Homo sapiens: one gene and its partners. Changing the gene in region 1 together with any one later gene gives a genetic interaction. Each region holds a gene or a part of one and is shown on either strand. Other genes may lie near its edges.

Evidence for each region. Genes that interact genetically often act in the same process or in processes that back each other up.
Region 2: changes in RB1 (region 1) and ELMO2 together harm fitness more than expected from each alone (negative genetic interaction), as found in Homo sapiens cells (one large-scale study listed by BioGRID).
Region 3: changes in RB1 (region 1) and UMPS together harm fitness more than expected from each alone (negative genetic interaction), as found in Homo sapiens cells (one large-scale study listed by BioGRID).
Region 4: changes in RB1 (region 1) and SAP130 together harm fitness more than expected from each alone (negative genetic interaction), as found in Homo sapiens cells (one large-scale study listed by BioGRID).

Annotation. Positions count from the first base shown.
Region 1 is NC_000013.11:48,380,251-48,386,068, forward strand, and holds part of RB1 (retinoblastoma-associated protein), read left to right. Parts: intron 1-996; coding exon 997-1,193; coding exon of another isoform or gene 1,194-1,205; exon of another isoform or gene 1,206-5,818. UniProt on the Homo sapiens protein: Tumor suppressor that is a key regulator of the G1/S transition of the cell cycle. The hypophosphorylated form binds transcription regulators of the E2F family, preventing transcription of E2F-responsive genes.
Region 2 is NC_000020.11:46,382,616-46,386,115, forward strand, and holds part of ELMO2 (engulfment and cell motility protein 2), read right to left. Parts: intron 880-3,500; coding exon 801-879; intron 1-800. UniProt on the Homo sapiens protein: Involved in cytoskeletal rearrangements required for phagocytosis of apoptotic cells and cell motility. Acts in association with DOCK1 and CRK. Was initially proposed to be required in complex with DOCK1 to activate Rac Rho small GTPases.
Region 3 is NC_000003.12:124,743,952-124,747,451, reverse strand, and holds part of UMPS (uridine 5'-monophosphate synthase), read right to left. Parts: coding exon 3,368-3,500; 3' UTR 1-3,367. UniProt on the Homo sapiens protein: Bifunctional enzyme catalyzing the last two steps of de novo pyrimidine biosynthesis, orotate phosphoribosyltransferase (OPRT), which converts orotate to orotidine-5'-monophosphate (OMP), and orotidine-5'-monophosphate decarboxylase (ODC), the terminal enzymatic reaction that decarboxylates OMP to uridine monophosphate (UMP).
Region 4 is NC_000002.12:128,018,060-128,021,559, forward strand, and holds part of SAP130 (histone deacetylase complex subunit SAP130), read right to left. Parts: intron 1-3,500. UniProt on the Homo sapiens protein: Acts as a transcriptional repressor. May function in the assembly and/or enzymatic activity of the mSin3A corepressor complex or in mediating interactions between the complex and other regulatory complexes.

The sequences.
Region 1 (5,818 bases):
ATTTTCATAAATAAACACTTTTGTTCAATTTAAAGTTAAAATGTGGTGTGTTTCTTTGGTCGGGGGAGAGGGATAGTGTGAGGTTAAGGAGAAGGAATGCTTATTTTAGATCACTATATACTGAAGAATGTAATTGGTCATTATAAGCCATTTAAGAGGCTTATTTGAGTTATTTGAGGCCATCTTGGGGATAATATTTCACTAGGCTTCTCTTCTGAGTATACTGGTATACTGAATCCAAAAAAGGTACTTTTTGAAATCCCTCCGAAGACCTTTGAGATTGTAGAGTGCCAAAGGAGTATTCAAGAGTGGCCTCTACTGATATGGAAGCACTGCTGTAACCTCCATGGTTATGAAACTAAAGATTGAAGCTAGAATCCACTGGATAAACAGAACAAAGGCCAATTACAATGTTTTTAAAAACATAAATGTATATCACTTTGCAAATTATGTTGCAAATGTTAAAAGAAAGTTTTGCTTGCAGAAACAAAAGGAACATTTGTATAAGGATGCAAAACACAGAAAAAGAGGAACTTTTAGTTTCCTTATTAGTAAACAGATAAGGAAAACTGTGAATCCTCATTTATAACCAAGAAATGCATATTTTAATGAGATACCATTTTGTAACTAATGAAATTAGCAGAATCTTGAAGAATCTGTCTATCCTCTTACCAAGGATTAATGAGAATTAAAATAGATATGCCAATGGCTGATAAGATACTAAACCTGTTCCTGATATAAGTTTAGGGTATTTAAATCTTTGAAAATTTGAGATCAGCTATAAGTCCTTTCTCTAGGAAAAACACAGATTTGCTTACACTCAAAATTGGAAGGCTATTTCCTATGAGTCCGTAGACTCCAAAATAAAAAATTCTGCTCTAAATAAAAATGGTTTAACCTTTCTACTGTTTTCTTTGTCTGATAATAACTTCCAAAAAAATACCTAGCTCAAGGGTTAATATTTCATAAATAGTTACTTTTTTTTTTCATTTTTAGGAAGTACATCTCAGAATCTTGATTCTGGAACAGATTTGTCTTTCCCATGGATTCTGAATGTGCTTAATTTAAAAGCCTTTGATTTTTACAAAGTGATCGAAAGTTTTATCAAAGCAGAAGGCAACTTGACAAGAGAAATGATAAAACATTTAGAACGATGTGAACATCGAATCATGGAATCCCTTGCATGGCTCTCAGTAAGTAGCTAAATAATTGAAGAAATTCATTCATGTGCATATGGCTAACAAATTATTGTTAGTGAGAGGTGTTTCTTAACATCTACCTCAAGAACATATAGGGAATTTAATGAATAATGTTATTTCAGTCTATAGCCCAAGGATCAAGTGGAATATTAGAATGGAGCTTTAATCGAGCACCCTAAACCATCTAATACAGCACAGTGATTTATTTAAGAATAGCTTTTCTTAAAACATGCCACTTTAAAACAAAACGGATTTTTTTTTTATACTTTAAGTTCTAGGGTACATGTGCACAACGTGCAGGTTTGTTACATATGTATACATGTGCCATATTGGTGTGCTGCACCCATTAACTTGTCATTTACATTAGATATATCTCCTAATGCTATCCCTCCCTCCTCTCCCTACCCCATGACAGGCCCCAGTGTGTGATGTTCCCCACCCTGTGTCCACGTGTTCTCATTGTTCATTTCCCACCTATGAGTGAGAACATGCAGTGTTTGGTTTTCTGTCTTGGCAATAGTTTGCTCAGAATGATGGTTTCCAGCTTCATCCATGTCCCTACAAAGGACATGAACTCATCCTTTTTTATGGCTGCATAGTATATATGTGCCACATATTCCATGGTATATATGTGCCACATTTTCTTACTCCAGTCTATTATTGTTGGACATTTGGGTTGCTTCCAAGTCTTTGCTATTGTGAATAGTGCCACAATAAACATACGTGTGCATGTGTCTTTATAGCAGCATGATTTATAATCCTTTGGGTATATACCCAGTAATGAGATGGCTGGGTCAAATGCTATTTTTGGTTTTAGATCCTTGAGGAATCGCCACACTGTTGAACTAGTTTACAGTCCCACCAACAGTGTAAAAGTGTTCCTATTTCTTCACATCCTCTCCAGCATCTGTTGTTTCCTGACTTTTTAATGATCGCCATTCTAACTGGTGTGAGATGGTATTTCATTGTGGTTTTGATTTGCATTTCTCTGATGGCCAGTGATGATGAGCATTTTTTCATGTGTCTTTTGGCTGCATAAATGTCTTCTTTTGAGAAGTGTCTGTTCATATCTTTCACCCACTTTTTGATGGGGTTGATTTTTTCTTGTAAATTTGTTTGAGTTCTTTGTAGATTCTGGATATTAGCCCTTTGTCAGATGGGTAGATTGTAAAAGTTTTCTCCCATTCTGTAGGTTGCCTGTTCACTCTGATCGTAGTTTCTTTTGCTGTGCAGAAGCTCTTTAGTTTAATTAGATCCCATTTGTCAATTTTGGCTTTTGTTGCTATTGCTTTTGGTGTTTTAGTCATGAAGTCCTTGCCCATGCCGATGTCCTGAATGGTATTGCCTAGGTTTTCTTCTAGGGTTTTTATGGTTTTAGGTCTAACATTTAAGTCTTTAATCCATCTTGAATTAATTTTTGTACAAGGTGTAAGGAAGGGATCCAGTTTCAGCTTTCTACATATGGCTGGCCAGTTTTCCCAGCACCATTTATTAAATAGGGAATCCTTTCTCCATTTCTTGTTTTTGTCAGGTTTGTCAAAGATCAGATGGTTGTAGATGTGTGGTATTATTTCTGAGGGCCCTGTTCTAAACCAAAACAGAATTCTTTAAAGTATTTAGATAATTTATTTAAAGTACAGTTGTTATATATTTGAAAATGCAAATGTCTGCTCTTAAATTGTGAGATTATGCTATTTAGATTATTAAAAAGTGCATTTTTTTCTTGTTAAATATAGTAGGATTCATTTTTTCCCATTATTAAAGTATAAAAATGTATACTATTGTTCAATTATAGGTATTGGTTCAATCAATATAGGGGCACAAATTATATTGTCTAGGATTCTCTTTATAGCATTATAACTATTGATAAGGCTTTTGTTTTAATAAAAGTGGCAACTTGAGGTTATGCTCTTCAAATCAACATAGTTGGATAATACTTTGTGAATCATCAGTTTTGTAAATTAATGGTTTCTTTTGAAACTGTGTTGCATGCTAAGTATATATCTTTTAATTTGTATCAGTATATAGAAGTGGTAATTAAAAAATTAAGACTTTAGGTATGCCATAATCCTAATTTGCACATGTAACCTTAGTTTTAATTTCCTTACGTTTTGAATTTTTAATGACTAAGCGATAATTTATTTCTTAGTGTTTTCTTGTATTGCCATATAGACAGAGTGAATAGAGGAGAGAAACATGGGAAATTGATAGAAGAATGTTACACTCCTATTATTGAATTTCATAACTACTTATGGAATGAATTTACACTTGATAAGGAGTACTTAGAAGAAAACTTTCTGAATCTGGGTAATTAAGTGAAAGTAAAAATAAATAGATAAGTAAATAAAATAAGCACATAGAGTACTTTTTAAAGGCTTATGTGTCCTCTCCTCCCAGAAATTGATATTGAGATATTCCTGTATCATCTGAAAGTGACTATTGTTATTTCTTTTAGAGAATTAATTTTATTTCTATCAACACATATTTATTGAACATACGCCATATGCCTTGAATTGAGAGAGATACTGTGAAGATACAAAAAAGATAAAGGCTTGGAAAATTGTGGAGGATGTAATAGAAATTTACTGTTTAAAAATTGTTTGTACTCAAGCCTGTTTAGCTCAGTTATTTAGGGCTTCTAAACAATATTCCTTTATTTTTGAGAATTTTTGGAGAAAAAGTGACAAGCCCCAAATCTGGAAAAGAGTATGATTGATTTACAATAGGAGACGTGGAAGTCATAAGCCTCTGAATTTAAATATTAAATGTAGTATCTCTGGCAGATGAAACTATAGAGGACTTTTATTTAGTCATATATTTTTAGTGTTTGAGTCTTATATTACATTTTTAATCATAAAAACCTTGAGTGGTAGTGGATAACTTTGTGAAGATAAGTTATGCCACACAAACAGGATACTGTGTATTTTTCCTGTGAGAATAATTGACATTATAGAGAAGGGATATGGCATAGATACATTTGCGTTTTCACAGACTTTTTTTTAAAATTTGAAATATAACACATATTAAGAAAAGTATATATCTCAAGTGACAGTTTGGTGAATTTGTCACAAATTGAACACATCCGTGTAAACAACACCCAGATAAAGGCCCAGAGCAAGCTTTCATAGTCTTTTGATTCTGTGTCATAATAAAAAATTCTCGTTAAAACTGTAGATTGATAGGAACATATTCACACAGAGTTGTTGACTGAGGGAAATTTCAAATGAGGTGCTGCTTACTTCTCTCCTGCCAATAATTTAATGAAAGAAAGAACATCATCTTATTTTTAATGGTTGTGTGGGGAACTGGGTTCAGCATTTTTGCTTGACAGCCTTGAGATAAAATAAATCCATAAGGAAAAAGCCCACTTCTGTTTCTTTTCATCCCAGAGAGATTAATGGGCAATATATGAGTGTAAGATACTGGAAAAGTCTGTTGAGAAACCTAGTGAAATCTCATTCTCTGAAAAGTTGGGGGATTACAGGTGCTATCGAATGCATCATACCTAAGGGTTAGATGAAATGACTTCCAAGAGTTTGGCCCTATTAAATCTGTTAAGAGGTTTATAATGCCAGCAGGTGATGAAATGAAATTTGGATGCCTTAGTTTCAGTATTTTCAGAATTTATCATATTTTTTCAATAAATGTTTATAAATCAAAGTATGTCAGATGCTTTATTCCCTATATGATCTGTCTTTCCTGGACTATTCTGGACTCTTCCTATTGATCTCTCATTTGCTACCTTGAGACCATTTCTCTCACAGCAGCCAGAGAAATCTGCTCATAATGTAAATCTCATCATGCTAATTCCTCAGGTAAAAAACCTCCTGTGGAGGACATATTCATCTGGTAATGTTGGAAGAAGACCCTACCATATGGCTTTCTGCAAAAAAGACCACTATACTACCTGTTTGGAATACAAAAAGTAACTGACTGAAATTACTGGACAGGAAGAACAGATGCTAGTTGAGAAAGAGAAGAGGGGAGCTGGGAGCCTGAGGAGAAGGCTTTTAGTCTAGGGCTAAGTGCAGTAGGTATAGGGAAGGACAGTAAGGTAGGGCAGGGATGTCAGTGGGAAAACTATGGGTCTCTTCACCAGGAAAACTGGAAAATTGAAGCTAGGGAAACCTTGGCCACTGAAGAGAGTGGAAGAATCCTGCAAGGGAAAGAGCCAAGAAAGGGTACCCAGATTCTGTCTGAAATCTGAATAATTCCTGTGTGTCACAGACTCAGAGCAGCCAAATGAAGGGCAAAAGATCTGAACTGAAACTGGAGTTGCTGCCCAATAAACAGAACAGTTCAAGTTAAGCAAAGATAATTGCTTCTTACAACAAAACCATTCTCATTTTAGAAAAATAACAGAATTTAGGATCTTCACAATGTAACATTTATGATGTTCAGGATACAGTTCTAAAATTATCCAGCATAGAAAGAAGGTCAAAGAAACCAAATGCTGGTTTATAGAATAGGAGCTTTAGGCCAGGTGTGTGGTGCACACCTAATCCCAGCATTTTGGGAGGCTGAGGTGGGAGGATCATTTGAGCCCAGAAGTTCAAGACCAGCCTGGGCAACAAAGCAAGACCCCATCTCTTAAAAAAAAAAAAAAAAAGCTAGGTGTG
Region 2 (3,500 bases), on another chromosome or scaffold:
CTTGTCCAGCCAGCAGCAGGGAGAATACTTAGTCCCAGGCCCCTCGGCTCTTAGGTCAGTGTTTGTTCCACCACCCAGCTGATTCTTAGTTTCCTTATTTGTGAAACAGGGATCTTGTTTTTCCTCAGACATCCTTGTGAGGTAAACAAGGCAGATGTTGTTGCTCCCATGTGACAGGTGAGGAAACTAAGGTTCACAGAGGCAGAGCTATCTGCATAATGTCACAGTTAATGAACAGGGGAAGGAAGATGTTTAGAATCTCCATCAGAGAACCTTTAAACCTAAGATTTAGTGTGAAATCCCATTCATATTGGACTCCTTGGACTCAGGGTAGCCACAGGGTCTCCTCTTCCTTATTCTTGATTCTGTAACCCAGGAGTTGGCAAACTATGGCCATATTAGGCCTGTTGCCTGTTTTTGTAAATAAGATTTTATTGGAAGACAGCCATACCCATTCATTTACCTACTGGCCGAGGCTGCTTTTGGCTACAATGGCAAGGTTGAGTAGCTATCACATAGACCATATGGCCCATAAAGTCAAACATATTTATTCTCTGGCCCTTTAGAGGAAAAAGTTTGAAGGGCCCTGCTCTCATCTAAGACCCAGCTGGTTTCCCCTCATAGGTCTTCCCTGGGTCTTCCTTAGCAAAGCCACCCTCCTGGGCTCCAGACCAGACAGCTAAGAGGAAGAACTCTTGGGAAAATTGCTGGATTTGTGCTCTCTGCATAGCAAAGAGTGCATGGGGTGAGAATTATCTCAGAAGAGCCCAGATGAAAAATGTGAAAAGGCAGCCACAGACCTGTCGTTTGTCCTCAGGAGCCTTCAGAAAAAGTGCATTAATCAGTGCAATGGCGTAGGTCTGAATCTCCTGGTTGGAGCTGTGTCAATGGAGAAAGAAGAGAGAGGGAGATTAGAAGACTGAACAGCAAGATGATGCTTAGAAATGGTTTAAAACAATCACTCACAGATTATAAGCAAATAATGATCTGGAGCTCAGTCTCAAAAGCATTCAAAGTGGGCATGCTCTTGACCCAGCAATTTCACTAATAGGAATTTATCCTAAGACAGTAATCAGAGAGCTATGCAAGATTTACTGACAAGGCGTTTCATTAAAGTACTACTTAAAAAAGAATGGAAAGTAATCCAAATGGTCACATTAGCCAACATTTATACATATGAGAATCTTAAGTAGTTATTAAAAGTCATGTTTTAGGGTAAAGATTCTTAACCTGGGATTCAGGGATGAGCTTAGAGTATTTGTGAACCCCAGGAATGATACAGAAATTATTCTATGTAGTTTGCCAACTAAGTGGTATTTTTTCCAAACTGGTGAGAGTATATACTTGTTACCAGATTTTCAAAGGTGTCTAGGTTGCAAAAAAGACTTAGAACTACCCTTTTAGAAAAATCTTTGACATGGAGAAATGTTCAAGGTGTATTATTCAGTTAAAAAAAATCAAGGTACACATAGTATATATAATGAGATCCCGATTTTGTTAAAAATATGCATAAAAATACTGAAGGGACATTCAATTTAATGTTTAACAGTGGGTATGTCTGGAGGTGAGATAATGGGCAAATAATTTTGCGTTTTTCTGTATTTTTAAAGTCTTTGACTATAAACTTATTTTATTATGAACAAACAAAATAACTACAATCATTCTCTGGAATCTTACAATCCTGGTACTTGACATCTCCACCTGCCATGTCTTGGGTGCATTCTGTGGCTGTCTTTCCAGAGGGTCTGATGGGCTTCCTGGTTAGTCACATGGTACCCAGGGAGTCTAACAGAGGGCACTAAGTATCCCTCAGCCCAAAAAGGAAAGCATATAAGTTCTGGTGACAGCTGTGGGCTGAAAGTATTGGCTCCTATGAAATGCCATGTTCCCCTATCATCCCTAGGGAGGCAACTGGGGCCACTCTGAATTCAGAGACAAAAAAAAAAACCAGAGAAGTAGATGTGAGGTTACAGGAAAATCAGAATTCTCTATCTGGAGTTTATAATGTCCCTCTCACCTTAATCAACCTTGGTGGCTCGCTGGGTATGAAAGCTGAGGCTAGACCAGGCATGGTGACTCACACCTGTAGTCCCAGCTACTCAGGAGGCTGGGGTGGGAGGACTGCTTGAGCCCAACAGTTTGAGACCAGCCTGGACAACACAGCGAGACCCTGTCTCTACAAAAATAAAAAAAAAAAAAAAACTAGCCAGGTGTTGTGGAGTGTGCCTGTGATTCCAGCTACTCGGGAGGCTGAGATGGGGAGGATCGCTTGAGCCTGCAGTGAGTTATGATCATGCCACTGCGCTCCAGCTTGGACGGCAGAGTGAGACCCTGTCTCAAAAAAGAAAAGCAAAGAAAGCTGAGGCTGAAAATTCCTTAAAAGTGACAAGGAGAAATCAGAGTTGCAAAGAAATAATTGTGCTTTCTTTTTACTTGGATTAGTGGGGAAAAACAAGTTGGGAGCATAGCTGAGTGAAGACAGGGCCACTATAAACTCCCAAATCTGGGAGCTATGACTTCCCCTCGAACTGGTGGGGGATTCTGGCAACATTCTGACAATGTCTAAAAAACAGAAGTGAACAACAGTCAGAAGAGAATCAACAGGAGTGCCACCACTGTTTTGCAAAGTCCAGCTTCCTTACATGGTGTAGGTTGGTTGGAAGTGAGGTAAAAACAGCGGAGACGGGAGAAACATTGCTCCAATGGGTTCATTTGTCATATGGTCTCAGTATCTGGTAAAATGTTTTAGGATGTGATAAGAGTCTTAACAAACAAACAAAGGAAAAAAGCCCCTGAATTTACTGAATACCTAACCCAGGTTGGCCTCTATGCTGGACCTTTTTAAAATCTCCTTTGATCCTCACAGTGTGAGAGGTGAAGGTGATTAACCTATTCTAGAGATGAAGAAACTGAGGCCAGAAGAGACTAGGTTACTTGCTGATGGCAGAGACCTAGTATGCAGAAGAGCCTGGATTTGAACTGATATTCCAAACTCACACCTGTGTGATATTTCTTACAAATCACCCACAGTGCATCGTCGGTTCAGTGAGCATTCATTCAACAAGCACTAATTGAGCCTCTACTTAAATCAAAACAGGGGATACAACAATGATTGGTCTCTGTTTCAAGGGGGCTCTATGTTCAAAATGGGCAACAGATAATAAAAATCCAGTATTTTATATAATTATCATAGGTACAGAGACTACTGGGCCCATGTGAGAAAGCATCTAATTTTGCCTGGTACCACCCTGGTATGGGAAGACTGGGAAAATCTTCATTTTAACCTAAGGGGCAGAGAGAGTTACAGAGGATTTTGGGCAGGAGCATGACATGATCAAGTCTGAATGATGGGAGAAATTCTGGCAGGAGTGTGGAAGAGGTGATGAATGAAGAAGCCAACCAACAGCTTGGAATATAAGCAAAGGAGAGTAGGATTGGAAGACTTAAAATAAGAGGAGAAAAGAGGACAGACAAGTGAAGGGAGGGAGGTGTAGGGTTTT
Region 3 (3,500 bases), on another chromosome or scaffold:
GGTTCAGGCTCGGAACTGGTACTGAGTGACTCCCACCCACCGGGTACTTTGGATGAGAACTGCACCCAGGCCAGCATTAGCAGCTAGCTCAGCGGCCAGCACCCTCTGCTGTTGGCTCTCCTGTGGCTGCACCCCTGACAGCCAGGTCTGATGACCCAGATGGCAACCACTGCAACTGGAGTGGTGTGGGCTCTGCTGTCGGGCACACACTGAGTCACAGTGAGAACCTCCTCCACCGTCTCTACAAAAAATTTTAAAAATTAACCAGCTGTGGTGGTGCACGCCTGTAGTTCCAGCCACTCGAGAGGCTCTTGAGAGCTACTTGAGAGTAGTTCCAGCTACTTGAGCGGATCGCTTGAGCCCAAGTCAAGGTTGCAGTGAGCCATGATATACTCCAGCCTGGGCAACAGAGTGAAGACCCTGTATCAAACAAACAAAACAAAACAAAAAACCAGCCCTCGGCCTACTTTTGGCAGATTTTCTTAGAGCTGACTCAGTAGCACAAGGGTGAGTGTTGGGACTGAGATCCACAGGCTGGCTGTGAGACTGAGCATATCCCTTTACGATTCTGGAGCTACACTTTGGGAGCTCTAAAATAAGAGGAAGTGCACCAAATAGTTTCTTAGGTTCCTCCAGTGCGCACGCGCGCGCATGCACACACACACACACACACACACACACACACACACACACACAATCTATGGGCTTATGTTCTACAGAATGCCTCGAGTAGCTGGAGAGGCTGGGGGATGGCGTTCTCCACTCCATCAGTCTCACAGACATTCTGTGCACCCCATGGAGACATGGGGTCCCTATATTCCCCACTAAGACCAGGAGTTACAATGCCCAGAGATCATGTTCTGTAAATATTCCTTGACTGAGAAAGGGTTAAACTATCTAATGCCTCCAAAATACTTCAATGCTGAAGAACAGCGCTTGTATAGCCCAAGTTCTTCTCTGCCTGAATCAACTTGTCCTCTAAAGCTTTGATGCCAGACTGGGATTCTGCTTAGGTAAGAGGCCTGCAGTACTGGGCTGACTCTTCACAATAGAAATACAAATCAGAAACAGATCACTTGAGGCACCCATTAGAAATGCACACGCCCAGGCTGCTGGGCAAACCACAAATCTGCTAACGCAGAAACTCTGATGGTGTGGGGCACAAGGACCTACACTTTCAGTAAGTGGCAGGGGCTGGGTGATTATTTGAGCCTCCTCTCATTTCCCCTCAAATCACCTTAGCAGGGGTCCTGTGAAATAGGGTTCATCAACAGGAACAGTGCCTGCGTCCTGGAGATGGCAGGAGCCCACATTTCTAAAGGACAGGAGCATGTGACTCTTAGCAGGAGGCAGACCTCAAGGCTGTCTCACTGCAGAGGCAGAAATGTGAATAACCAGTGAAGTGGTTCTCAAAGTCCAGTCCCTGCGCAGGCAACCGCAGCATCACCTGGGACCTTTTTGGAAACGCAAATTCTCAAGCCCCATCCCAGAGCTACCCAGAGTCAGAAACGCTGCGGGTGGGGCTGGTACCTGTTTTGACAAGACTCCAGGTGACTCTGATACCTGCTAAAGTGGGAGAACCACTGACACATGGAAGTGACAGCCAGGGAGGTGGGCGCCTGAGACCTCAGCACATCACTCCAAAGGCCTCTCAACATATCACTCCAACACTGAAGACACCTAAGAGATTCCTGCAAGTTTTTGTCAGAAAATTCTTCTCCCCTTCATGACTTTTGGCTTCCCCAGAGTAGCCCTGAGGGCCAACTCCCTTCCTGCTCCTTCTGTGGCCACTTCTTCCTTGAGAGTTGGTCTCTCCCACAGACAGCATTTCCCTGGAGATGCAGCACTGGGGACATGAAGCCCAAATTGGACTTTAGAGCAGAAGCTCTTGAAGTAAAAACTTCAGGAGGGAATATAATAAAAACCTGAGTTAAAAATCCTAGGCTTGTAGTCCCAGCTACTCGGGAGGCTGAGGCAGGAGAACTGCTTGAACCAGAGAGGCAGAAGTTGCAGTGAGCCGAGATCGTGCCACTGAACTCCAGCCTGGGCGACAGTGAGATTCTGTCTCAAAAAAAAAAAAAAATCCTAGGCATTCCTCTGAGTCATTAAAGAACAGTGGGCCATCAGCTGACAAGGGTGGGGAAATGGCTGATCCTGTGCCACTTCCTGCAGGTGGGCCCCAAATGAGAAGGAATGTGAGTGTGCTGGTGCAATGAGCACCGGGACAGCCCTCACCCTGCCCCTGCTCAAACACCACCTTGAATGTGGGCTTTCTCTTTATTATTAATGAAGGCTTACCTCCCCTCTACTAATGACCGTTGGGACAATTATGTGGGATCCTTAAGCAAATACCCAAATGGAATCTTAGACCTCCTAATTGTGAAGTCAGTCACAGGAAGCTGTCACTTGTGTTACTACTGGTCCATAATTGCTGGCTAGGGGAAAAAATGAGCCCAAACCCCAACTCCGGTTGTTGAAATAACAGCCAGATACTAGCTCAGGAGCTGAGCTATAGTCACCTTCCCCTTCCCCACCTTCCCCTCTTTGGAGAGTGAGCAATGGCAGTTCTGGGAACCAGCCCATGTGGATACCTGGACTATCACTTTTAGGCCAGAGATGGAGGGGAATGGCTAACAATTAGGTATTATTTGGGCAACACATTAGACAGAGAATACAGGACACAAGAAAAGCTGTGCTGACTTTAGCCTCTTGGTGCCCTAGAATTTTTGTCTTACTGCAATTAGGCTGGGCACAGTGGCTCACACCTGTAATCCCAGCACTTTGAGAGACTGAGGCAGGAGGATCGCTTGAGCCCAGGAGTTGAGACCAGCCTGGGTAACATGGCAAGACCTCATCTCTACAAATAATAAAGAAATTTAGATGGACGTGGTGGTGCATGCCTATAGCACCAGCTAATCTGGAAGCTGAGGTGGGAGGATCACCTGGGAGGTCGAGGCTGCAATGAGCCGTGATCTCACCACTGCACTCCATCCTGGGCAACAGAGTGAGATCCTGTCTCGAAAAAAATTAAAAAATAAATAGAATAACAAAGCAGTCTAGTCCCATGGAGAGATAGGAAGGATCCTCAAATGTGGAAGACCCTAACCCAGACAGGACTGTGGCTGTCTAACAAACACCAGTCTCAAAAAAAGCAAGCTTAAGAATGAACTTATTATAGTATCAATGCGGTGATTACAAATTACTCAATATTTCCTAAAGACCATGAGAACTCCAGAACCCATTCTTACACAGGCCCTGTGGAAGAATCCAAGCAGGAATAATTGGATTATTTCCAGCCAGTGACTTTCAGGAGGACCACATATCTTCAATGTCTTCACATTGTATCTGAAAAATGTATCTGAAGCACTCAAACACCAAGTCTACTCAAATACGCTTCCCAAGCAGCTTTTCTGTACATCTCTGCTGCTTCCAGACGATCAGCTGCTGAGATTATGCCACGACCTACAATGATGATATCGGAACCTCGTTTGCCAATAACT
Region 4 (3,500 bases), on another chromosome or scaffold:
GGGCACTGGATTCTCCTGATGGACATCAGACAAAAGAGCCACAACTGTGGAATATAGAATTTATTCTGGATATTGTAGCCTTATGAACAAACTACCTGAAAATCATCTAAAATGAGCTGAAATAGTTAAAAGTACAATACAGGATGTAAGACAATTTCATTTAAAACATCCTCTTAGAAAGTTATAAAAGCCTGACATTAAAAAGATATTTTATGCTGGCCAACATGGCAAAACCCTATCTCTACTAAAAATACAAAAAAAAAAAAAAAAAACAAACCAAAAACCAAAAACCACGTTTTTTTGTAATCCCAGCTACTTGGGAGGCTAAGGTGGGAGGATCACCTGAGCCCAAAAGGCAGAGGTTGCAGTGAGCCAAGATTCCGTCACTGCACTCTAGCCTGGGCGAGAGAGGAAGATTGTCTCCAAAAAAAAAAAAAAAAAAAAAAAGGATGGCTGGTGCAGTGGCTTGCACCTGCAATCCTAGCATTTTGAGAGGCCAAGGCAAACAGATCCCTTGAACCCAGGAGTTCAAGACCAGCCTTGGCAACACAGTAAGACTCCATCTCTGCAAAAAATTTTAAAATTAAATGGGCATGGTGGCATGCACCCGTAATCCCAGCTATATTGGAGGCAGAGGGAGGAGGATCACTTAACCCTGGGAGGTCAAGGCTGCAGTGAGCCAAGCCATGATTGTGCCACTGCACTCCAGCTTGGATGACACAGTGAGACTTTGTCTCAAAAAAAAAAAAAAAAGGTGGTTGGGGGCTGAGCACAGCCTGTAATCCTAGCACTTTGGGAAACCAAGGCAGGTGGATCATTTGAAGTCAGGAGTTCCAGGCCAGCCTGACCAACGTGGTGAAACCCCGTCTCTACTAAAAATACAAAAAAATTAGCCGGGCGTGGTGGTACACACCTATAATCTCAGCTACTAGGGAAGATGAGGCAGGAGAATCACTTGAACCCAGGAGATGGGAGGCTGCAGTGAGCTGAGATTGCGCCACTGCACTCCTACCTGGGTAACAAGAGTGAGGCTCCATCTCAAAAAAAAGAAAAAAAAAAGATATTTTAAGTACGGTTCCTAACTTTAAGAACATATAATTTTTCAAAACTGAGGGACAGAGATAGGAGAGATATTTTCCAATGTATGCTCTTTTTCTTTTGGTGTTTTGGTCTACCAGAAGACAATCTATTTAAAAATTTTTTTTAATTAAAAAAAATTTTTTTTTTGAGACAAGGTCTCACTCTGTCTCCCAGGCTGTAACGAAGTCACAGGATATCAGCTCACTGCAGCTTCAAACTCTTGGACTCAAGTGAGCCTCTGCCTCCGCTGCCCAAGCAGCTAAGACTACAGGCACATGCCACCACACCTGGCTAATTCTTTTATTTTTTTATGAAGAAAGAGTTCCACTATGTTGCCTGGTCTGGTCTTGAATACCTGGGATCGAGTGTTCCTCCCACCTCTGGCCTCCCAAAGTGCTGAGATTACAGGTGTGAGCCACTGCACCTGGCCTATTTAAAAATTAAGTATTTAAAAATTCAGTGGAGGCCGGGCGTGGTGGTTCACGCCTGTAATCCCAGCACTTTGGGAGGCCAAGGTGGGGAGATCACTTGAGGTCAGGAGTTCGAGATCAGCCTGTCCAACATGGTGAAACCCTGTCTCTACTAAAAATACAAAAAAATAGCCAGGTGTGATGGTGCACACCTGTAATCCCAGATACTCAGGAGGCTGAGGCCAGAGAATTGCTTGAGCCCGGGAGGTGGAGGTTGGGAGATCCTGCCACTGCACTCCAGCCTGGGGGACAAGAGCAAAACTCTGTGTCAAAAAAAAAAAATTAAGTGGAAAAAAATCAGAGAACAATACTGATGTAATAAAGGAAGAGCTTGTGAAAATATTAACTCATATTTGTCTATAATTTTTCCAAAATAATTTTTTTTCTGAGCATAAAGATAATATTTACTTATGTAGAGAATTTAAATTATTTGGAGTACCATAAACAAAGTAATGTTGCCCCCAAACTTACCCCACAAAGGCACCAACACTTAAAGTTTTGGTGACAGTTCTCGCTTCTTTTAAATTTTGGGTTTTTATTCATTTGACTTTTTTTTCTTGAAGTATGATTTTCATAAAGATAAGTGCACAAATGTTAGCTGTGCAGCTCAATGGACTTTCACAAACTGAATAAACCTGAGTAAATAGCACCCAGCTCAAGATAGAAAACATTATTGGTCCCCCAGAGACCCTTAGTTTGGCCCTATTCTAGCCACTATCCTCCGAAGGAAATCAATCTTCTACCTTGTAACACTATAGATTAGTATTGTCTGTTTTTTAACTTTACGTAAACAGACTTATAACAAATACACCCTATTGTGCTTTGCCTCTTTCACTTACAGGTATGAGATTCATTCACATTAGTGTACACAGCTGTAGATCTTTCATTCTCAATGCTGTATATAGTACGACACACGAGTAACGTACAAATTATCCATTTTACTCTTAAGAGGCACTTTAGTTTTCAGTTTGTTCCTATTTTGAATAGTGCTAGTAATGTTCTTGTACGTGTCTTTTGGTGAACATATGTACCACTTCTACTCAATATATACCTAGGATTAGAACTACTGGGTAGAGAATACTGCATCATTTTTTAAAGGTGAAATGGGGCCGGGCACAGTGGCTCATGTCTATAATCCCAGCACTTTGGGAGGCTGAGGCAGGTGGATCACCTGAGGTCAGGAGTTCAAGACCATCATCCAACATGGTGAAACCCCGTCTCCACAAAAATACAAAAATTAGCTGGGCATGATGGCGGTTGCCTGTAATCCCACCTACTCGGGAGGCTGAGGCGGAAGAATCACTTGAACCCAGGAGGCAGAGGTTGCAGCGAGCCAAGACTGTGCACTCCAGCCTGGGCAACGAAGCAAGACTCTGTCTCAAAAAAAAAGTGAAATGGGATTCTATTGTATAGATGTACTATAGCTTTTAAAATCACTGTATCATTGATGGGCTTTTAGGTTATTTCCAAATTTTTGCTTTTATCAACAATCTTGTCCAATGATCTCTTCAGGAAAAAATTCCTAAAAGTACAAGTGCTGGATGAAAAGAGTGATGTGGCCGGGCGTGGTGGCTCAAGCCTGTAATCCCAGCACTTTGGGAGGCCAAGGCGGGCGGATCACAAAGTCAGGAGTTTGAGACCAGCCTGGACAATATGGTGAAACCCTGTCTCTACTAAAAATACAAAAATTAGCTGGGCATGGTGGCGGGCGCCTATAGTCCCAGCTACTTGGGAGGCCGAGGCAGCAGAATTGCTTGAACCCGGGAGGTGGAGGTTGCAGTGAGTCGAGATCGCGCCACTGCACTACAGCCTGGGCGACAGAACAAGACTCCATCTCAAAAAAAAAAAAAAACAAAAAAACAGAGAGGAAAGAAAAGACTGATATACGTTTTCTTTTTCACTATATATTGACTTTTCTCCCAGGTCATTCAGAATTTTTAAAATTTTGAT